7 linked regions of the Homo sapiens genome follow. The protein of the gene in region 7 purifies or fractionates together with the protein of the main gene of each other region. This does not show direct contact. Each region holds a gene or a part of one and is shown on either strand. Other genes may lie near its edges. The genes, in order: SERINC1, SLC26A2, AGPAT2, TSPAN15, SLC25A30, ACSM1 and SLC22A16.

The links.
Region 1: the proteins of SLC22A16 (region 7) and SERINC1 purify together in Homo sapiens (affinity purification with mass spectrometry; 2 studies listed by BioGRID and IntAct, with this or other methods). This does not show direct contact.
Region 2: the proteins of SLC22A16 (region 7) and SLC26A2 purify together in Homo sapiens (affinity purification with mass spectrometry; 2 studies listed by BioGRID and IntAct, with this or other methods). This does not show direct contact.
Region 3: the proteins of SLC22A16 (region 7) and AGPAT2 purify together in Homo sapiens (affinity purification with mass spectrometry; 2 studies listed by BioGRID and IntAct, with this or other methods). This does not show direct contact.
Region 4: the proteins of SLC22A16 (region 7) and TSPAN15 purify together in Homo sapiens (affinity purification with mass spectrometry; one large-scale study listed by BioGRID and IntAct). This does not show direct contact.
Region 5: the proteins of SLC22A16 (region 7) and SLC25A30 purify together in Homo sapiens (affinity purification with mass spectrometry; 2 studies listed by BioGRID and IntAct, with this or other methods). This does not show direct contact.
Region 6: the proteins of SLC22A16 (region 7) and ACSM1 purify together in Homo sapiens (affinity purification with mass spectrometry; 2 studies listed by BioGRID and IntAct, with this or other methods). This does not show direct contact.

Annotation. Positions count from the first base shown.
Region 1 is NC_000006.12:122,442,851-122,445,329, forward strand, and holds the end of SERINC1 (serine incorporator 1), read right to left. Parts: intron 2,330-2,479; coding exon 2,194-2,329; 3' UTR 501-2,193; downstream 1-500.
Region 2 is NC_000005.10:149,963,758-149,967,257, reverse strand, and holds part of SLC26A2 (sulfate transporter), read right to left. Parts: intron 1-3,500. UniProt on the Homo sapiens protein: Sulfate transporter which mediates sulfate uptake into chondrocytes in order to maintain adequate sulfation of proteoglycans which is needed for cartilage development.
Region 3 is NC_000009.12:136,672,643-136,675,050, forward strand, and holds the end of AGPAT2 (1-acyl-sn-glycerol-3-phosphate acyltransferase beta), read right to left. Parts: intron 2,166-2,408; coding exon 2,093-2,165; intron 1,286-2,092; coding exon 1,110-1,285; 3' UTR 501-1,109; downstream 1-500. UniProt on the Homo sapiens protein: Converts 1-acyl-sn-glycerol-3-phosphate (lysophosphatidic acid or LPA) into 1,2-diacyl-sn-glycerol-3-phosphate (phosphatidic acid or PA) by incorporating an acyl moiety at the sn-2 position of the glycerol backbone.
Region 4 is NC_000010.11:69,499,965-69,503,464, reverse strand, and holds part of TSPAN15 (tetraspanin-15), read right to left. Parts: intron 1-3,500. UniProt on the Homo sapiens protein: Part of TspanC8 subgroup, composed of 6 members that interact with the transmembrane metalloprotease ADAM10.
Region 5 is NC_000013.11:45,411,874-45,415,373, forward strand, and holds part of SLC25A30 (kidney mitochondrial carrier protein 1), read right to left. Parts: intron 66-3,500; exon of another isoform or gene 1-65. UniProt on the Homo sapiens protein: Antiporter that transports inorganic anions (sulfate, sulfite, thiosulfate and phosphate) and, to a lesser extent, a variety of dicarboxylates (e.g. malonate, malate and citramalate) and, even more so, aspartate.
Region 6 is NC_000016.10:20,666,681-20,670,180, forward strand, and holds part of ACSM1 (acyl-coenzyme A synthetase ACSM1, mitochondrial), read right to left. Parts: intron 3,311-3,500; exon of another isoform or gene 3,307-3,310; coding exon 3,147-3,306; intron 1-3,146. UniProt on the Homo sapiens protein: Catalyzes the activation of fatty acids by CoA to produce an acyl-CoA, the first step in fatty acid metabolism.
Region 7 is NC_000006.12:110,438,614-110,442,113, reverse strand, and holds part of SLC22A16 (solute carrier family 22 member 16), read left to right. Parts: intron 1-1,820; exon of another isoform or gene 1,821-2,042; intron 2,043-3,266; coding exon 3,267-3,394; intron 3,395-3,500. UniProt on the Homo sapiens protein: Facilitative organic cation transporter that mediates the transport of carnitine as well as the polyamine spermidine. Mediates the partially Na(+)-dependent bidirectional transport of carnitine.

The sequences.
Region 1 (2,479 bases), about 12 Mb from region 7:
TGGGCATTGTGCTGCTGATAATGTTGGAGAAAGACCACTTCACAAGAATTATGGAATAAAATATACTAAAGCTTGGTAACTAACATGAGTTGGAGTATTTTATCAGTAAAAGTACATTCTTTTTTAGTAAGGGAAATTTTTATACTATCTGAAGTATCTGTGGAAGAAGACAAGCATCAAAACTGGCAACCAGAAAAAATAGCTGGAAGACATAGTAGATGTAGAATATCCACTGAAAATATATTAATATTCTCCAAACTAAACTGATCCATATACTGAAGACTCTTTAGGGGAAGAATGCCTCTTTACCTTTGAGATCCTACTTCTGGGGTCACTTACAGACAACCAAAGGGTAACAATCTCCTAAGCAATTTAATTATCATTACAGAAAACAGGCAGTTACTTTCTAGTGCCAGGTCCTTTTTCACATAGGAAGAAAGGTCTAAATGTTATTATGGCCACCTAAAGTTAAGCTGCTAAATAATCAGTACACTACACACTTTCTCTGAATTCATTTATTTAGAGGTAAAACACAGCCATTCAAAATTGTGGAATACAATGTCTACACACAGAATAAGGTTGGGGAATTAAGCTGAATTGTTATATTCCATTCACATTAATAAATATTTTTAAAGAAGAAATTGTAGATTTTAAAAGCTTCATTAGACACTAGTGACACATACAAATAACTAAACTCTCATACTGCTTGATTTTCAGGTTGAAAGGTTACAATAATCTATATATTTCAATTACATGGCAGTAAATACAAAAGCATTTTAAACATCTTTTGAACTGTGTAGTATACTATAAGCAGGAGTTTATTCTAAAACATTCCATCATTCTTCTGACCTGTTTATGGGTCATGCTGGACACCAGCAATCCACATCACATAAATTATCCACCAGTAATGAGGTGTAAAATCAATTATGCATGTATTTTGAATAGAAATTATTTTTAAATGTCAGAGAGAATGCTATTATTGGCCAACTTGAAATTTCCTAATTAGCTATCTGAGCTATTTAAGTCTGTATTTCAGTGTCTTCATTTTTTTAAATGAGAGAACTGGACTAGATTTTATATAAGTACCTACTAAAGCCTAGTGTTTTGCAGTTACTTCCTTCCCTGTCAAAATTTTGCCTCCTTTGATTTTCAATATATATATATTTTTTTGTCTTACTCTGTTGCCCAGGCTAGAGTGCAGTGACGTGACCTTGGCTCACTGCAACCTCTGCCTCCTGGGCTCAAGCAATCCTCCCACCTCAGCCTCCTCAGTAGCTGGGACCACAGGCATATGCTACAAAGCCCAGATTATTTTTTATAGAAACAGGGTTTCACCATGTTGCCCAGGCTGGTCTTGAATTCCTGGGCTCAAGTAATCTACCCACCTCAGCCTCCCAAAGTGCTGGGATTACAAGGGTGAGCTACCGTGCTGGCCCAAAACTAACTTTCAAAGTGACTTTCAAACACTTCCTTCTAACCCATGATTATCCTTTTCAAAACCTTGTCTAAATCCTTCAGAGTTCCAAACATTTCCACTGAACCCATACTTCATGAGTTTAAAACAACCAAAACAGTTCACTTTGTTGGCAAAGGCCATCTCTACCCAAGTAAGATTATTTACTCGTTATTCAATTTAGTACCGACACCTCCATCCATAACCTACACTATTGTCCACTAAACACTCCCTACCTGTGTAAATTCCGTATCAAGGGTAAAACCTTATAAGATTTTTCAGACAACTGGCATTTAAGTGACTTGTTTATAAATTTTAAAATAAACCATGTTCTTTGCAGTATCCTGCCAGGCAACACATCAAATATTTCAAAAGGCAGCCATACATTTGCTTTAATGCTTGCTAAAACAGCTTAAGGTCTAATATAATTTTAAAATAGTCAAACAAATTTGTTTTTACTCTTCATTTCACAACTATAGAGCAGAGAATAAGCCCAATAATGGCCACTTTTACTAACTCATCACCATATTCATAAAACTTTCCTCTGCAATTCATTCTACTTCACATATCAATGCACTTGGTAAGAAAATAACAAAATGACAAGCAGTAAAATCTAATTCATGCCAGAACACTGGAGAAGTTACATGGGAAGCAAAAACATACACAACTTTACAAAAGTTGGGAATACTGTTTTCAAATAAGCAATAATCAAAGTGGGACTTTCATGCTAGAAGTCTCACTCAGTCAAAATCACGATTTGTAAGAACAAGTGGTGCCACGAGTGTCCAAACATACAGCACGATGCCAATCCAACTGGAAGAGATTTTCACCCAGACAGCTGTCCACTGACTTTTCATCTCACGAGAGGGTTCATACCTAAAATTTCAGGGAAAATTATTAAAAAGGGGCAAGGGGGTTGAATTATCAGCCACCAAGCTATGAAGCTTCATTAATTCAGAAGCGTGCTTTGTATACAGTTTGTGATTTCAGATATATCATTGCTGCATCTAATCTGCTCCCTTTCTT
Region 2 (3,500 bases), on a different chromosome or scaffold from region 7:
ACTACAATAAAGCTATAAAGTCTAATTCTTATCTGAAGGGGAAAAGAGTAGCTTGAATATAACCTGTTACATAATTTTCTTTTTCTTTTCTTTAAGAGACACAGTCTCACTCTGTTGCTCAGACTGGAGTGCAGTGGCATGATCATAGTTCACTGCAGCCTTGAACTCCTGGCCTCAAACAATCCCCCACTTCAGCTTCCAGATTAGCTGGTATTATGGACACACGCCGCTGTGCCCAGCTAAGTCATTTTGTTTTCAATTGCAGTTTATATTTCAATTCCTAAGAAATCGTCACTGAATGTTCCAATACTCTGGATACGCAGCCTTGGGAAATGTATTTCTTAAGTCCCCAGACACACACAACTTTGGGAGGAAGTATCTAAGCAAGGTTTTATTTCTTTTTGTAATATTTTTCTAAAAACAGTTATATTTAGTTTTAAAATATGACAGCTTCATTGGATAGATTTGATGACATATTAATCAGATACAGGTTGAGTATCCCTAATTCAAAAATCCAAAATCAAAAATGCACCAAAATCTGAAACTTTTGAGCACCAACATGATGCTCAAAAGAAATGCTCACTGGAGCAATTTGGATTTCCAGATTAGAGATGCTCAACTAGTAAGTATAAAACAAATATTAAAAAAAAAAATTCAGAAATTGGAAACACTGCCAGTCCCAAGCATTTCAGGTAAGGGATACTCAACCTGTACTGGGATTTTCCTAAGAAATCTAGGCCATTTAAAACTGAGCTTCACAACCTGTTGTAAATATGGTGTGATATGCATGTTTGTGTATGTGTGTTTAAGTAACTGCTTTTAACACATAACACAATCTAAAACCATAGGCAGTGAGGGTCAGTAGAAAAAGTAACCTGTTGTCAGGAGCCCTGGACTCCAGGCAAGTCATAACCCTCTGTCCCAACCATGAGACAGTTCAAACTAAATGATCAAATCATTAAGTGGTAGTTTTCCTGAATTACAGGACTTTAGAGCTAGACAGAGATCAAGAAATCCAACCGCCATGATTTTTTGGTAAGAAATAAGAGTTCAGCTGGGTACCAGTGGTTTACAACTATAATCTCAGCACTTCGGAAGGCCGAGGCATGCGGATCACTTGAGCTCAGGAGTCCAAGACCAGCCTGGCCCACATGGTGAAATTCTATCTCTACTAAAAATCCAAAAATTAGCCAGGCGTGGTAGCACATGCCTATAATCCCTGCTACTTGGGAGGCTGAGGCACAAGAATCACTTGAACCCAGGAGACAGAGGTTGCAGTGAGTTGAGATTGCGCCACTGCACTCTAGCCTAGGTGACAGACAAGACTCTGTCTCAAAAAATAAAATAAAATAAATAAATAAAGGTTCAGATTAGTGAAATCATTTGCTACTTAAAGGCAGAGATGGATCCAGAACCCAAGTATCCTGACTCCTAACCTTTTTCCTCTAATAGATTGCCTATGCCAGTCTCTGTAAGTGTATATACATCAGATAATTACAGGAAAACTAGAGTCGACCTAAAAACAACCTAAAGATCTCAAGTTTGTGGAAAACCTGAAGTCTTAACATTAACCCAGCATTAATGTGAACAAGTCAACAACCAAAGTAAGTCTCCTCTCTTATATGGAAAAATCTCAGACTAGACTGGTAAGAGCTACAGTGTAAGAAAAAAAAATAATTAAAAATATATTTTTAATAAAAATAAACTAGACTAGAATATGTAGTTTAGAAATAATTTTCCAATACTTCACACAGCTTTTTTTTTTTTTTTTTTTTTTTGAGACAGAGTCTTGCTCTGTTGCCCAGGCTGAAATGCAGTGGTGTGATCTCGGCTCACTGCAACCTCCATCTCCCAGGTTCAAGCGATTCTCCTGCCTCAGCCACCTGAGTAGCTGGGACTACAGGCGCCTGCCACCATGCCCGGCTAATTTTTGTATTTTTAGTAGAGACAGGGTTTCACCATGTTGGCCAGGATGGTCTCATCTCCAGACCTTGTGATCCGCCTGCCTCGGCCTCCCAAAGTGCTGGGATTACAGGCGTGAGCCACCGCGCCCAGCCACACACAGCTTGTAAGTAGGGGAATCATGACTTGAACAAGCCTGCCTGATTCAAACGTATACTGTCGCTTGATTGCTTATTTTGAAGCTGTTTTTAAATCTTCAGAAAAGTTGAAAGAATGATACATGGAACACTTCCATACTAACAATTCACCTATTTAGCAATTTTACAGTTCATAAGATGTTAACACACTCTCTCTCCATACTTATATGGGTTTTGTCATTATTGTTTTTCAACTATTTGAAAGTTGCAGGCATAGTTCAGCCTTAAACACTTTATTGAACCTACATTTAAAAAAAATTTTTATTTTGAAATAACTGTGGACTTGCAGAAAAGCTGTAAAAATAGTACACAGTTCCTGTATAATGGTCACTCAGTTTCCTCTAATATTGAACCTACATTTTTTTTTTAATTTTTTATTTTTGAGACAGAGTCTCACTCTGTTGCCCAGGCTGGAGTGCAGTGGCACAATCTTGGCTCACTGCAAGCTCCTCCTCCTGGGTTCATGCCATTCTCCTGCCTAAGCCTCCCAAGTAGCTGGGACTACAGGTGCCCGCCACCACACCTGGCTAATTTTTTGTATTTTTAGTAGAGACAGAGTTTCACCGTGTTAGCCAGGATGGTCTCGAGCTCCTGACCTCGTGATCCGCCCGCCTCGGCCTCCTAAAGTGCTAGGATTACAGGCGTGAGCCACCACGCCTGGCTATTTTTTATTTTTATTTTTGAGATGGGGTCTCACTCTGTTACCCAGGCTGGAGTGCAGTGGCATGATCTCAGCTCACTGCAACCTCCACCTCCTGGGCTCAAGCGATCCTGAGTAGCTGGGATCACAAGTGCACGCCACCATGCCCAGCTATTTTTTTGTATTTTTTGTAGAGACAGGTTTTCGCCGTGTTGTCCAGGCTGGTCTTGAACTCCTGAGCTCAAGTGATCTGCCTGCCACGGCCTCCCAAATTGCTGGGATTATAGGCATGAGCAAAGGAAGAGCCCAGCCTGAACCTACATTTTTAAAGCACTATGCCTCTTCTTCAAAAGAAGCATTCATTAGCAAGATGAGGTCAACCATTTGGATATGCTCCCCAAAAATCTGCACTGGCTCCCTATCTCCTACCAAATATGGTCTAAAAACATTGGTATAAGCTTCTATGCATGAGCCTAAAACTGCCACTGTCTTGCTTCCTCCTATGCACTAGTGTTCCAATCACCAGTCCATGAAAATATCAAGCAGCCTTTGCCCTTGGGGCCTTTGCTCATTGCCCAACCTCAAATGACACCTTATATAAATCGGTCCCTTCCTAGATACAATATATAAAACAGAGGCCAGGCACAGTGGTTCATGTCTGTAATCCCAGCGCTTTGAGAGGCCAAGGCAGGAAGATCACTTTGAGGCCAGGAGTTCGAGACCAGCCTGGGTAACATAGCAAGATCTTGTCTCCACAAAAA
Region 3 (2,408 bases), on a different chromosome or scaffold from region 7:
CTGCCTGACCCCCAGCACAATAAAAATGAAACGTGAGCTGCTGTGTCAGTGGATGGACTGGGGGCCTGGGAGGAGGGCGCTCACCTCCTGGCCACCCCTCCCAGACCCACTGCTGGGTGCCAGCTGGCAAAGGGGGCCTGGTGGAGCGGGCAGTCGTGGGGTGGGGAGGGGGTCCAAGGCAGAGGGGGTGGGCAGGTGGTTTCTGTGAGGCCACAGAGAGCTTTGTCCTGGGGACATGTTGGCCCCAACCAGAGGCCAAAGAGCAAATCTCTGGCCTCCTTCCCAGTAGCCTGAGGATCCCGGCACACTTGCCCGTTAGGCGACACCCCCACCCATCGATGGAAGTAGTATAGGGTGATGTGGGTCCACTCCTGGATAGGGAACACGGGTGGGTGGCGGTGCCTGCACCCTGGGCCTCTAGGCAGGGCAGCTGGGAAGACACAGCGTCGCCTCCACCGCCCTGGTCACCTGCCCGCCCTGTGAGTGACCACAGCTCCCCAGCCACTTCCAAGAGTGTGTTTATAAAAAAACAGCAACGGAGTACAGTGCTGACCCCACAGAGTCTTCCAGGCCAGCAGGAGCAGCAGGCCCCGATTCCCGGCTCCCTGTGGCCCAGGGTGCGTGAGTCTGGGACTCCTGGCCCTCCAGGCCCCTCCTCTCCCAGAGAGCCTGATGCAGCTTGTGGGCTGGACCCTGGAGCCCAGCTGCACCCTGGTGGGTCCCAGGCGGCTGAGCAGAGGGCTCGGACAGTGTGCGTCTGGCCTCGGGGTCCTCCCATCTGCTCCTGGGCCATCGGGGGCCTTGTGGCTCAGCCCACCAGCGGGCCACAGCCGCAAGCCTCATCTTTATCATCCCAGCTCCCAGAGGTGCCGTGGGCGCGAGTCCCTGCCCTCGAGCCCGGGGAGGGTCCAGCTGAGCCCCCTGCAGGGGACACCAGGGGCCTGTGTCTGAGGCCAGTGACAGAAGGGGCTTCCTGCTTCCCGGGCTGAGTGAGAGCTGGGGGAGCCGGACAGAGTGGTATTTGGAAGCCGGGAGGAGTCCCCTCTGCCCATCCTCCAGCCATCGGCTTCCACCTGCCCTCCCCAGGTCATGCCCTGCCGTGGTCTGGGCTACTGGGCCGGCTGCACGCCAGACCCCGCAGTGGCCCCGTTCTCCTGGGGGGTCTTGGAGATGTGGAGGAAGGTGGTCCTCATGGCCCGGTGGCAGGTGTCCACGAGCGCAGGGACGTCCGCCGCAGTGAGGCCGCTGGTGGGGATGGCTTCCAGCACCTGCACTGTGACTGTTCCTGTGGGGGAAGCAACAGACCTCAGTGGCCTGTGGGGAGCTGGGGCCCACCTCAGCCTGCTGCCCTGGCCTCGCCTCTCCCCAGCCCCCCACAGCCCCTCCCTGGGAAGCCCGAGGCCGGGCTCTTCCCCTGGACTCCCTAGCCGTGGTGGGTTATTTTAATTGCAGTAACGTTGCTGCAGTAAACCCCATGGCTGCCTGGCCTTCACGCCGCATTTTCGACAAGTCTGCGCTCCCCTGTTACTGCCCCCAGAAAGCCCCACTTCCTGATCAGCCCCTACCTCACTGCCTGGCCTCTGCCCTCCATACGGGGCGAGGGGCTGTGGGAGAGATGGAGCTGGGTTCCCCCACTGCTCTCCAACTTTGACCCCACTGTCCTGCCTGGGCACCAGGTGCCCACGTTCTGGGAACTGGCTGGAAGGGGCAAGAGGTCATGAGCCCCGCAGCCTGTGCCCCTGGGCTGCCTGGGTTCCATCTACCCTATGCGGGCATCAGCCTGGACACATGGGCTCAGAGGCCGCCCTCCAGGCCCCCAAGCTGTGTGCACAGCTGGGGTCCATCCGTGTGAAGTCTCTTGGAGCCTCAGTTTTCTCATCTGAAAAATGGGCCCAGCACCACCCATCTCACAGGGCCATGAGGCCATGAAGCCCACAGCTGGGACTCCAGCCTGAGTCACTCATTCGCCACATGGTCACCGTGTGGCCACGCCACGGGTGCCACCCGGAAATGGGAACGATGAGGGGCCCGGGGCTCCGTGACTGTAGGGTCAGGCGGGGCCTACACCCCGGGTGCACACATGTGGGGGTACCTGAAGTGAAGAACTTCTTCTTGGTGTTGTAGAAGGAGGAGAAGGAAGAGTACACCACGGGGACGATGGGCACCTGCAGGCAGGGAGACGCACAGCTGAGGCAGCCCTGGGGACAGGCCAGGCACACCCCAGGCTGCATGTGGTTGGGGAGCCCTGTCCTGCGGCCCACCCACCCCTGCCTTCGCTGCTGCCATGGGTCCTTGTGGCTGTCCTGCCCCTGGGACCTGGGATATGTGTCCTGCTCTGGTTGGCCCAGAGTTCCATAAGCTCATCCTGCAAATTTTTACTCATCTCCTCTAGGAAGCCCTCCTGAGCT
Region 4 (3,500 bases), on a different chromosome or scaffold from region 7:
TAGGTTGTGATGATCACAGAACCCACCTCCTAGGGCTGTTTTGGACATAAAGTGAGATACACATATAAAGTGCTTATCACGGGGCTGGGCACATGGAGGAGCACAAGAATGCTGGCTGGCGTGATTTGTTCACAATTCCAGCCCCTGCAAAGGAAAGGGAGGGTGTCTTCTCTCCTTCCGAGAGAGGGTTGGGCCTCAGATGTCATCTAGGTCATTCTAAATGTCAGGGCTTGATGTGCAGGCAAGACGACCTCCCTCGGTTTAGCTGGTTCTCCAGGTAGCCTCAGTCCCAGCCATGCCCAGTGCCCACTGGGCATTAGTCAGCCAGTGTTTTTGGCCCTTCCAGGCCATAAACACAACCCCTATGGAGAGGGTCAGGCCTGGAGAGCAGGTGCACGGGCACATGATGGGAGTGAGTGCTTTCCATCTCATTGGTTCATTCATTTGTTCATTGAACAAATATTAACTGAGCACCTATTGCATGTCAATCCCAGTTCTAGTCACTTGAAATACAGAACAACAAGACAAAGTCCCTGCCTTCATGGAACTTACACTGTAGAAAGGGAGATAATGAACATAACAAATAGGTAAGCTGCATGGTACGTAGGGAGGTGACAAGAGTGACTTCACTGGGCCAGCTCTGGTGACCTCGGGGGATGAGTCTCTTAGCACACAGGCAACTGGCAGAGGCCTCTCTGGCATCAGAGCCCAGAACCCTTCTCCAGGCCCAGGGGGGACTCACCTCACCCTGCCAGGAGAGCCCCTCACCAAGGGGTGAGGGGATACGATGCATCCATAGTCTTTCCAAAAGTAAAGCCTGCCTGGGTTTACCTGCCTGACCATAGAATCGATATTCTGCAAGAGGCTCTGCTGAAGTTCACAGGCCCCAAGACCAGGGTCCAGTAGCCTCTTCCATCCTGCACGGGGCCACAGGACAGGAAGTCAGAAGGGGGACTCCTGGGCAGCCAGAAGATCACAGCAATGTTTGTGTGTGCATCCTCTCACCCTGAAAAGACTGAGCAGCTAATGGGGACAGGGAGAGGGGCCTTCGCGACAGGCCCCCAAGGGGTAGCCAACAACAAGGGAGGGGAGGTACGTGAAAATTGGTCCCAAGAGCTCAGCAGGCACAGCAGTCTGGAGCCATTTAATGTAGAAGCACGCTGCCCTCTGCACCAACATCTCCGAGGGATATATCCTGGTATAACCAGATTTTACAGCCCTATGTGAACTTCTATGGCTCAAATCCTCTATTGGAAGCTCATATAAGACATTTCTTTTAAAGCTGAGTGTTAGGGAAAAGGTTACTTTCCCTGAAGAACTGGTATGTTCTGCTGGTATGTTCTGCTGAACAGTAACAATGTAACAGACCATGTCTCCCTTTTCCTTTTGGTTGCCAGGAAACTCTAAGCCAGTGGTCTCCAACCTTTCTGGCACCAGAGACTGGTTTCAAGGAAAATAATTTTTCCACAGGATGGGGTGCGGGGGGGTGGGGGGTGATGGTGTCGGGATGAAACCATTCCACCTCAGATCATCAGGCATTAGTTTGATTCTCATAAGGAGCATGCACCCTAGGTCCCTTGCATGCACAGTTTACAATAGGGTTCACACTCCTATGCGACTCTAATGCTGCTGCTGATGTGACAGGAGGTGTAGCTCAGGTGGCAATGCTCCCTCAACCTCTGCCCACCTCCTGTTGTGCGACCTGGTTCCTAACAAGCCACTGACCGGTACTGGTTCATGGCCTGGAGGTAGGGGAGCCCTGCTCCAAGCCACCAGACACGAGGCTCAGCTCCTTTTCAGTGAGTCCATGAGGTCCTGAGGCTTAGATAGCAGGATTTTATATTTTTCTCCATCATCTAGGCCTCCTATCTGAGAATACAATTCCCACAGTCCTGATTTTTAATGCTATTTTAGTTTTTTACACTACATATTTCCCGTGTACTCATTCAAATCCCAGGTTGAATAGTACAGTGTAAAATAAATAGATCTGGACACAAATCAACCAGTTCTATGGAGGAAGCGAACGCCCTGTTTCACATTTAGAGAAAATCATCCAGGTGTGGTGGCACAGGGAGACTCAATGGTCATGTGTAACACAGGGTCAGATAACCCCGGCCAGGGGAAGGCTCCTCCCTACCTCAGTGCTCTCATTCAGATGCTGTCTTTAGATTCTACCCTATCTGCAGATGATGTCCGTGTTTACACCCCTTGCCTAGTCGTTCCCAGAACTCCAGACTCCTATATCCAACCGCATCTTTGACACCCCTGATGGGATGCTGAACAGGCTCTCAAACCCCCCACGTCCACGGTGAGCTCCTGGTCACCCAGCCTGCCTCCTTGCAGTCCTCCCCTCTCAGGCAGTGGCAGCCCCGTCTTTCCTGTGGCTCAGACCAAAACCTGGGTATCCTCCTTGATTTCTCTCTTTCATTCATCGCCCACATCTGCTATGCGAGCAAATCCTGTAGGCTTACTTGCAAAATACAGCCAGAATGTCACCACGGTTTGCCACTTCCACCACCACCACCACCACCCAGCTCCAAGCATCTGTCTTCCCCTCCCTGGTGCAGGGATGCTGTGGGGAGCCCTTAGGTGTCAGCCCCCTGCAATAACTACTTCATGTGATCATTAATTTTATATGTCAACATGACCAGGCCATGGGATACCCAGATATTTGGCCAGACATTATCCTGGGTGTCTCTGTGGGGGTGTTTCTGCATGAGGCTAATGTTTAAATCAGCAGACTAAGTAAAGCAGATGGCCCTGCCCAAGGGGGAGAGGTCTCATCTGATCAGGGAAGGCCTGAACAGAACAAAAGACTGCCCTCTCCTCAGTGACCATAAGAGAATTCTCCCTGCTTGGCTACCTTCGGGCTTGAACTGAAATGCTGGCTCTTCCTAGGTTTGAAGCCTGACCAGCCTTTGAATGGGAACTCCACCCTCAGCTCTCCTGGGTCTCCAGCCTGCCGACTCACCCTGCAGATCTTGGGACTTGCCCGCCTCCATAATTACACAAGCCAATTCCTTATCATCAATCAATCCCTCTCTTTCCTCTTGCTGTATTAGTCTGTTCTTGGCTGAACAGAGCCAGCAAGTCCCTTCTTGGGTGGACCACTGGACTCATGCAATGCCTGGTCAATGTGGGTGGGAGTGTGAAGGCCTGGCCCCCTCACCCCAGTAGGGGACAACTCTGAAGGGCTGTCCTCATAGATGTGGCTGAGGCCTCCAGCCGAACTGAGCTGAGGCTGCATCACTGCTCAACTCCCTTCATTGCCCAATCCCGCTTCTGGCTCCCACTTCCACAGGTGTTGATCCAAGAGCACCTTCCTGGACAAGATGACCTATGACCCCTGGATCACTGCATATCAGCCCCTAACTCTATCCCTGCATCTAGCATGTCCCTCACAACAGCCAGACTGATTCTTGTAAAACCAAGTCAGAGTGCCCCTCTTCCATGCAGCCCTGTATGGTCCATCACTCAAGGGTGCCCCACAGTCCTGCCTG
Region 5 (3,500 bases), on a different chromosome or scaffold from region 7:
GGCCAAGGTAGGAGAATTGTTTCAACCCAGGATTTCAAGACCAGCCTGGGCAACACAGTAACACCCTGTGTCAAAAAAAAAAAAAAAAAAGTATTTGCTATTCGTTCACTGCTATCTTAGTGAGTCCTTACTGGGGGTGGGGGGGTGGGGTGGGGATCACATCCCTCAGGTGCACTGCAGCAGACAAATGTTGCAAACTTGTGTCATAAGGTAAAATGACAATTACTTAAAATTACAAGCTACTTCTTTTTTTGTTTTTTTTTTAAGACAGGGTCTCACCCTGTCACAAAGACTAGAGCGTAGTGGCACAAACATGGCTCACCGTAGCCTCAACCTCCTGGGCTCATGTGATCCTCCCACCTCAGCTTCCCAACTACCTGGGACCACAGGCACACACCACCATGCCAGCCTAATTGTTTTATTTTTTGTAGACTGGTCTCTAACTCCTGGACTCAAGTAATCTTCCAGCCCTAGCCTCCCAAAGTGCTGGGAAAAGAGGTGAGAGCCACTATGCCCAGCCACCACAGGCTACTTGTAGTCTACATTCTATAAATATCGGCTCACTTCTCTTAGCCTTATTACGTTACCAGCTGTGAGGCAGTTTGGCATGAGGAAAGAGGCTGACTCTGGGGTCAGAGCCACCCCACACCCTTCCTAGAGAAGTTCCTGCTAACCTGAGTCTCGGTTTTCTTCTTCGCCAACACCATCATCACCACAGCAGGCAACACAACCAATTAGGGGGACATCCATACTTTTATTCACTAAGTTAAATAAATGTCAAGCTGTAGGCCTATTGTGGGCATTAAGCCATATATATTTTAAAGACACTCACAAATATTGCCCTCCATCTTCCTTTTCCATAATAAGACCTTGCTCACTGTGACATGTACTTATGTGCCACAGCTAAGGCCTTTCACATTCATGACATGTTCTGCAGTTGTATGTAATTAGAGCTGGTAAATGTGGCCTCACACCCCTTAACAGGAGACTCATATGACTAATACTTTTGTATATATACTATCAACTATAGCTACTGTTGGTTTAAAATAAAATTTCTAACTTTTCAGTCATTATTGGCAAGCAATATGCCAACATGTTTACTTTGCCTGTGTTTAGGAATTTCCCAAGTCTCCTTTTCCCAGGAGAGGACTACCACAAGTCACCACTGCCCAGAATATCAGTTTCCAACACTAGGACCCCCCATCGGGCACCTTGAATAAATCTATTAATCATTATTCCTTGTTTATGGATATTAACCAAATTCATAGCAGTTACAAATGAGTAAAATAGAAGGTTCTGTAAGAATGAAACATGAAAACCACTGTATGTTTTTAGGTATTTCAGTACTAAGGAGCAAGCCCTCTCCCAAAAGACTCCTCTCATCTCCCTATTATCTTTGAAAATATTTAATAACTGCACTTAAGTAATTCTTAGCCTTATTAAATTCATAACTCATATAATAGTTAAGATTGTAAGAGACTGTAAGAACCTATTAATAATAAATCCAATAATTCATTTACCACCCAGTACTAACTTCCTTAACCCATTCTTAGACCTAGCTGATTGCAGATTAAAAAGCAAAACAAAGCCAGGTGTAGTGGCACGCATCTGTAGTTCCTGAAAGGATGGCTTGAGCCTAGGAGTTCAAGACCAGCCTAGCCAACAGAGTCAGACTCCATCTCTTTTTTTTTTTTTTTTGAGACAAAGTCCCACTCTTGTCCCCCAGGCTGGAATGCAATGGCTCAATCTCAGCTCACTGCAACCTCCACCTCCCAGGTTCAAGTGATTCCCCTGCCTCAGCCTCCCAAGTAGCTGGGATCACAGGCATGGGCCACCATACCCAGCTAATTTTGTATTTTAATAGAGACAGGATTTCGCCATGTTGGCCAGGCTGGTCTTGAACTCCTGACCTCAGGTAATCCACCTGCCTTGGCCTCCCAAAGTGCTGGGATTATAGGCCTGAGCCACCGTGCCTGGCCAGCTAGTTAAGTTTTAATGAGATTTGGCTACTTTTTCCTCTGTCGGTTTTGATATTAAGTTTTCAGTTGGTTAGGTTAAAATCCAGAGGCTCTGGGTTAATACTAATATGCAAATACTTAACTAGAGCTAAAAATGTGATGGAATTGCTTCTTCATAGTTTTCAATCACATGGGATGAATCACATGCCCATTCATTCAGAAGTACCACCAATAAAACTTTTCTACAAATTAGTGTCCACTCCTGGATCAGCATCCTATAAGCAAGTACTTCTATTCAATTACGATTTTTAAAAGTTAGCTAGTCAGGAGGTAAAAACAACTTTTTGGCCTTTCTCTTCCTTTCCAAAAGGTAGGACTAGATCCCTAAGCAGTTAATATTACTGGAACTTATCAAGTTAATGTTTGCTGAGTAAAAGAATAATTTGGCTTAAATATGAACTAGAGAGCCGCAGTACATGGGCAAACATCCAAATAAGGAAAAGGGGGCGGGCGCAGTGGCTCATGTCAGTAATCCCAGCACTTTGGGAGGCCGAGGTGGGCGGATCACCTGAGGTCAGGAGTTCAAGACCACCTGGCCAACATGGCAAAACCCAGTCTCTGCTAAAAATACAAAACTCAGCCAGGCATGGTGGCGGGTGCCTGTAATTCCAGCTACTCAGGAGGCGGAGGCAGAAGAATCGCTTGAAACCGGGAGGCGGAAGTTGCAGTGAGCCAAGATCTTGACACTGCATTCCAGCCTGGGCAACAAAAGCGAAACTTTGTCTCAAACACACACACACACATACACACACACACACACACACACACACACACACACACGAAAACGGTTCTAGTTAGGACTGGAATAAGTAAGTAGATGTCCACTAAGCTGTACTGGCCACAGCAAGCTGTGACAGGGCTATAAGTATCTTAGGCTGAAATCTCTGTTCAGTAAACTAACCCATTTCTTTGTTTTGGAGCTCTTTCTGAAGGGAAGTCTCGTGAAACACTTCCTTGAATTCCAAACACAGTTGTTTGGAAAAATCCCAACTGGATCTACAGAAGTCCCAAGGCTGACAAGCCAAGACAGTTAGAGAGATTAATGTGTCCTTAGCAGTCAATAGTGTCTGGGCAGCATCTCGGGGAAGGAATTACAACTTTGCAGAAATTCCAGTGTCGGGCAGTGGCTGTAGATCACTTCTGATTTGACAGTCCTCTTACAGCCATGTTCTCTAAGCCATGCTAAAACCCAGTAATTCCTTACTTCTCCTTGCTGCGTTATGAACATAATACTAACACTAGCAGTCATCCCTGAATACCTGCTGTTAGGCATTGCTATACATTTTCTTCACAGTCCTATGAAAGAGGTATCATTATCCACATCTCACAACTAAGCAAACAGCCTCAGAGAAGAAAAGTAACTTTCCCTGGTCAAAGCTACCAAATATTCAAACTAAGGTTTCTCTGAAGGATCACATGACCCTTCCTCTAGATAGTACTTTGCAGACACTATCTTCCAAGGGCTGTTAAAAAAATATTGGT
Region 6 (3,500 bases), on a different chromosome or scaffold from region 7:
GAGGCATCACGTTGCCCAACTTCAAACTATGTCATAAGGCTACAGTAACCAAAACAGCATGGTACTGGTACAAAAACAGACAAATACACCAGTGAAACACAATAGAGAAGTCACAGCTATAGCCATATGGTCTTCAACAAAGTGAACAAAAATAAGCAATGGAGAAAGGACTTCCTATTCCATAAATGGTGCTGGGAAAACTGGCTAGCCATATGTAGCAGAATAAACCTGGGCTCCTACCTTTCGCCATATACAAAAATTAACTCAAGATGGAGTAAGGATTTAAATATAAAACATTACACTGTAAATATCCTAGAAGAAAATCTAGGAAATACTCTTCTGGATATTAGCTATGGCAAAGAATTTATGGCTAAGTCCCCAAAACCAATTGCATCAAAACCAAAAATTAACAAGTGGGACCCAATTAAACTAAAGAGCTTCAGCACAGCAAAAGAAATTATCAAGAGAGTAAACAGCTTACAGAGTGGGAGAAAATATTTTCAAACTATGCATCTGACAACATCCAGAATCAAATATCCAGATTCTACAAAGAATTTAAGTTATTTGTAGACTCTTATATGTGATGTCTAATTAGAACTAATATCAGAATCTACAAAGAACACAAATCAACAAGTAAAACCCAAATAATCCAATTAAAAAATGGGCAAAGTACATAAACAGACACTTCTCAAAAGAAGACATGCAAGCATCCAACAAACATATGAAAAAATGCTCAATGTCATTAATCAGAGAAATGCAAATTAAAACCACAGTGAGATACCATCTCACACCTATCAGAATGGTGATTATTAAAAGGTCAAAAACAAATGCTGGTGAGGCTTTGGAAAAAATGGAATGCTTATATACTATTGATAGAAATGCAAATTAGTTTAGCCACTGTGGAAAGCAATTTGAAAATTCCTCAACAAACTTAGAACTACCGTTTGACCCAGCAATCCCATTACTGGGTATATATCCAAAGGAAAATAAATGGTTCTACCAAGAAGACACAGAGGCTCATATGTTATTGGCAGTGCTATTCACAATAGCAAAGACATCAAATTGACCTAGGTGCCCATCAATGGTGGACTGGTATAAAGAAAATGTGCTACATATACACCATGCAATACTACACAGCCATAAAGAAGAATGAAATCATGTCTTTGGCAGCAACATGGATGAAGCTGGAGGCTGTTATCCTAAGTAAATTTATGCAGGAGTAAAAAACCAAACATCATTTTTTTCTCACTTATAAGTGGGAACTAAACATTGAATACACATGGACATAAAGTTGGAAACAATAGATGCTGGGGATAACAATAGACACTATGAGAAGGGAGAGACAGGGAGGGGGTCGTGGGCTGAAAAACTTATTGGGTACTATATGCACTAGCTGGGTCATGAGAATATTCTTACTCCAAACCTCAGAATCATGCAATATACTCATGTAACGAATCTGCACATGCACCCTCTGAATCAAAAATTTAAAAGACTTTTTGTTTTAGTCTTCAATAAGATGGACTAATACAATATCTAAATTAAAAATTATTATGAATAATTCATAAAAATAGTAAGTGGGAAATAGTAATGCAAATGCTTTTTTGGTAAATTTGTAGAATTTTAAACTTTAAGCATTTACTAAGGCTTAAAATACATAAAGACCTTTTGGGACACTCTCTATAGCAGCGGAAGAATTAGGCATGAGGATGGGAAGGGTGGTCAGTCTTGTTTGTGGTGCTTTAAGTCTCAGGTGCAGAATGTGGTACAGAAAATAATGATGGTGACACAGGAGGAGGCATTGATATAGAGGTAGGTAATGAGATATGGGAAGTGCAGTTTGATGTTCTGGAGGAATGATCAGATGGGCTTTACCAACTAGCAGGTTGGAAATGTTTTGCTAGCCTGGGAGAATCAGCTTGGACCGAGAAGACTAGACCCTAGGTACAGTCCTGACAGCCACCTGCATTGATGTGCTTGCTGAGAAAAATGGAGGTGAAGGAAATTGCTTAGAAAGAAGAACAGTAAGGGCAGACCACTGGAGCACTGCAGTATTCAGGAGCAGGCTAGGTGAAGCAGAGGTGGCTGCAGCAAATGGAGGATGTTCTTTGGTGAAGTTTGGTATTAAGGTGGAAAAGATGGGTTGACCCAGTGTGTAGCAGGTTCAAAGGAAGGCATTTTAGGATAAGTACACTGAATATGTTTACGGACTGAGGGTGTAAAACTAGCGAAAAGTGAGAGACTGAAAATACAGGAGAAAATGCATAGTAGATTAAAGATTAATAAAGAAATGCTGTTTATCCAAGGCCAGGAGACAGAACTCTGCAGTGGTTGTGCAGAGCGGGTGGATTTTGAGAGGTGGAGGGCAAGGTCTGCCTCTGAGAGGGAAAGCAAGGGTGTGAGTGGAGACATAAAGAAAATGTTGGGGTGAAGGGACATAGACAGAAAGAATTCATGCAGGTGACTTGAATTGTCATCATGATGTACTCATCATAACAATAGCAGCAGCAGCTCCCACAGATAGAGTGTTTTCTATGTGCTAATGTCAGGGTTAAGTACTTTACACATATCGCCTCTATCATCTCATTAATATTACCTAAGACTTTATGAGGTAGTAATTATTAAAAGACCTATTTTGCAGATAAGGAAACTGATGCTCAGAGTGGTATGTAACCTGCTAGTTAATTTCAAAGGTGGGATAAGAAGCTAGATCTGTCATATTCCAAGGGCTGTTTTTAAACATTTTATCATATTGAGTAAGAAAACACACACACACACACACACACACACACACACACACACACACCCCAGCTGCTTGGCCCTGGCAGCATCAGGGTCCAGGATCTGGGAGACTTGGACTTGTGCTTGCTTTAATTTTTCAAAATGCACATCCTGGGTCCCAAGTCTACAAAGACTGATCTACAGGTCTGAAGGATCGCCCAGTAATACACATTTTCTTCAAGGTCACATTTTGATGTGACTCAGGTATAGTGACTCAGACTCAGTGCATCACACTTTGAGAAGCCCAGGCTCAGGATCATCTTAGGCTCATGGGCTTCTTTGCTTAATAAAATATTTTTTTAGCAAGGTCCAGGAAACATGGATTTTTTTCTGGAATTTTGCTGATAGGGGAAGGTGAGTCTTCTTACCTGTATGATGACCTTGGTGTCAAACTGTGGCAGATGGTGGATAAAGACTGTACAACCCGCTGTCCATGGTTCTACCAGGGTCCAAATGGTAGCCACAATCCATCCTGAGTCCGACAGGCACCAGGAGACATCAGATGTCTTCAGGCTCCGTAATTTCCTACTAACTCCAAAATGCAGTGGCCTCAGCTGTGTGATCATGGCTGATGTGATGAAGGGCTGTGCACTCTGGTTTTTAGCTACGAACCCACCTTTCTCACTCTCAGTTCATGTGATTTGTGTGGGGCTCCATACCACCCTCAGGCCAGGTCTCAAAGGTGTACTGCCAAATATTTCCCAATTACGTACAACTGAAAC
Region 7 (3,500 bases):
CTGCCAACCATATTATTATGATATCTCTTAGTGTTATGTTGTAACACATGTACATATGAGGGGACTTCAACCAGTTCATGGAAAAATGGCATTAAAAGACAAAAATTTAAAACATAAACTTTCTCAACATGATTGCCATCAAGGTCAAGACACTTTTGTACGACATCAGCCATTTATTCCATCCTTAAAAAACTGAGGGTCCTGAGAATGTACCCATGTCAATGCAGTCTTATTTACACTATTAACTGAAGAAAAATGGGTGCCGCGTACAGACTTTTTAAGATTAGGAAACAGAAAGAAGTCAGAATGAGCCACCATGAGAACTGTTAAGGTGGCTGCCTAGTGATTTCCCATCAAAACTCTTGCAAAATTGCCCTTGTTTGATGAGAGGAATGAGCATGCCCATTGTCATGGAGGAGAAGGACTCTCTGGTGATGTTTCCCAGGCATTTTTCTACAAAAGCTTTGGTTAACTCTCTCAAAACACTCTCCTCATAAGCAGATATTTTCATTCTTTGGCCCTCCAGAAAGCTAACAAGCAAAATGCCTTGAGCATCCCCAACAAACGTTGCCATGACCTTTGCTTTCGACTGGTCCACTTTTGCTTTGACAGGACCATGGCCCCCCTTGGTAACCATTGCTTTGGTTGGGCTTTGTCTTCAGGATCAGACTCGTAAAACCGTGTTTCATCTCCTGTTACAATTCTCCAAAGAAATCCTTCAGGATCTTGATCCCACTTGTTTAAAATTTCCATGGGAAGTTCTGCCCTTCTCTGCAGCTGATCTGGGCACAACTGTTTTGGCACCCATTGAGTGGAAAGTTTGCTCAACTTTAATTTTTCAGTCAGAATTCTGTAAGCCAGACTAATTGAGATATCTATGGTATTGGCTATTGCTTCTGCTGTTAATCTCAGTCTTTGTCAATTAGGGCATAAACAAGATGTATTTTTTTCCTCAATGTGGATGCTCTGCCACTGTGGTCTTCATCTTCAATATCGTCTTGTCCTTTCTTAAAATAAGTTATCCATTTGTAAACTGCTGATTTATTTGGGGCTTTGTGCCCGTAAACTTTTCATAAAGCATCAATGATTTCACCATTCTTCCACCCAAGCTTCACCATAAATTTGATGTTTGTTCTTGCTTCAATTTCAGCAGAATTCATGTTGCTCTAGTGGGAGCTCTTTTCAAACTGATATCTTATTCTTCTTAGTGCCTCAAACTAGCTCCTCTTCAGACACGTTCTAAGAAGTTAGTACAAATTTCTTTTAGTGCAGAAAAAATCTGAAAACACATGCATAGTTTTTTCATAATATGCACTTTCCATTAACTTTTTTTTTTGGAAAAGGAGTCTTGCTCTGTTGCCCAGGTTGGAGTGCAGTGGTGTGATCTCAGCTCACTGCAATATCCGCCTCCTGGGTTCAAGCGATTCTCCTGTTTCAGCCTCCTGAATAAATGATATTACGGGCACATGCCACCATGCCCAGCTAATTTTTATATTTTAGTAGAGACAGGGTTTCACCATGTTGGCCAGGCTGGTCTCGAACTCCTGACCTCAGGTGATCCACCCGCCTTGGCCTCCCAGAGTGCTGGGATTACAGGCATGAGCCACAGCACCCCGCCGTCCATGACCTTTTTGAAAACTCCTTGTATTTTCCATTTGAAAAAAATGCATCAGAAGAATTTAGTCTCTCCCTTTCTGCCTTCTCTCCTTGCTCACCTTCTTCACACCCATCCCCAGCCCAGAGCTCCTCCCAGGGGTAACTTCTATAATGTTTGGGTTGTGCCCTTTCAGATCTATTCCTATGCATTTGTGCCAGACATTGTGGCATGTGCCTGTAGTCCCAGCTACTCGGGAGGCTGAGGAGGGAGGATTACTTGAGCCCAGGAGTTCTGGGCTGCAGTACTCTATGCTGATCAGGTGTCCACACTAAGTTCAGTATCAGTATGGTGACCTCCTGAGAGCAGGGAACCACCAGGTTGCCTAAGGAGGGGTGAACCGGCCCTGGTCGAAAATGGAGCAGGTCAAAATTCCTGTGCTGATCAGATCTGTTTCTACGCATTTTCATATATTTGTGCATATTAATGTTTTATATTTTAACATAAATGAGATCACTCACTATATATTGTTCTTTGTAAGTTGCTTCCCTTTTAAAATTTAATATGCCTTGGCTATCTGGCACCTCTCAACCTTCAAGTGTCCTTAATTTATAAATTTTAGTTAGTAAAATAACTTTTAAATACATGCAACTATAATTTATGTTGTTGTACTTCTTTCATTTTAATGGCAGGTTAAATCACTTTAGATAGCTTGAGATGTGACTCCTAGTGTAAACCAAATTTAAACTAAAACGTGAGAGAAATATTAGAAACCTCTTTTTATCCATCTAGTCTTAACTCCTGCTTATTGCTGTGTAGGCTGCCTGTATTTTATATTATCCTCAAAACATCTTGCTTCTAAATTTTTATACGTAGACATCGTGCCATCTCATTAAAGTGCTCTGACGGCACATCTGGTTATTTTTTCTGATTTCCTCAGCAGACACATCCGTTTTTGTTCATTATAGCTCAGCAGGAATTATGAGAGAAGTCGTTTTAAGAAAAAAAGATTTACTCTTTTTTTTGAAGCAAACTAACAAGTTTATAGAAAGAGCCTGTCTTGACTTCAAACTCATTCTCTATGACAATTTGAGATGGTGCAGTATCCCTAGAACAGAGTGGCCAATGGTAGGTGGGGTGGAGTGTGGATGCAGAAGCTTAGGAAGGCTAGAAGTTTAGATCTTCATGACATAGTTTTTTACTTTTGCCAAAGACATAAATTGTCAAAAAACTGGGCAATCTCATAAATACAAAAATGTTTCCAAAGACAAACACACATGGTTTTATATTATCTACCGTTTTGGATTTTTCACTTGTACTCTTGCAGATGGGTGCTTCTGTTCAATAATTCTCGGCTGTGAAATTTTTGAACAAGTTTTTATCTCCTGAGACAGTTTGGGGCTGGTGGGAATTTGGGCTCTGGCTTTGTGCCATTTGCAGGTGCCAGGCGGATTATGAGCATTAGAGCATTTCACAGGAAACGCTCATCTTTACTGTAGTGAGTTTAAAAGTGGCGGGGCTGGCTGCCTCGCAGCAATTCTTAGAGAGTTTCTAAAGGCCCCAGAAGTGAGGAGAGGGCTGCTCATGCCTTTTGGGTAGTGGGTTAGAAGACGGGGGTCCCCTTTTGCAGTCGGGTACCTAGACTTATAGAGGGCTGCTTGCTCAATGACAGGTGTAGTGGAAATTCCCGCCTACACCTTCGTGTGCATCGCCATGGACAAGGTCGGGAGGAGAACAGTCCTGGCCTACTCTCTTTTCTGCAGTGCACTGGCCTGTGGTGTCGTTATGGTGATCCCCCAGGTGAGTTATCTTCTGTTTTTTATAAGACAGTTATACTGTGACAGTTTGATGGGAAGAATTTAGCTTATTACAGTTAAGTATGAAGGTCAATTCAGAGTATGATTTG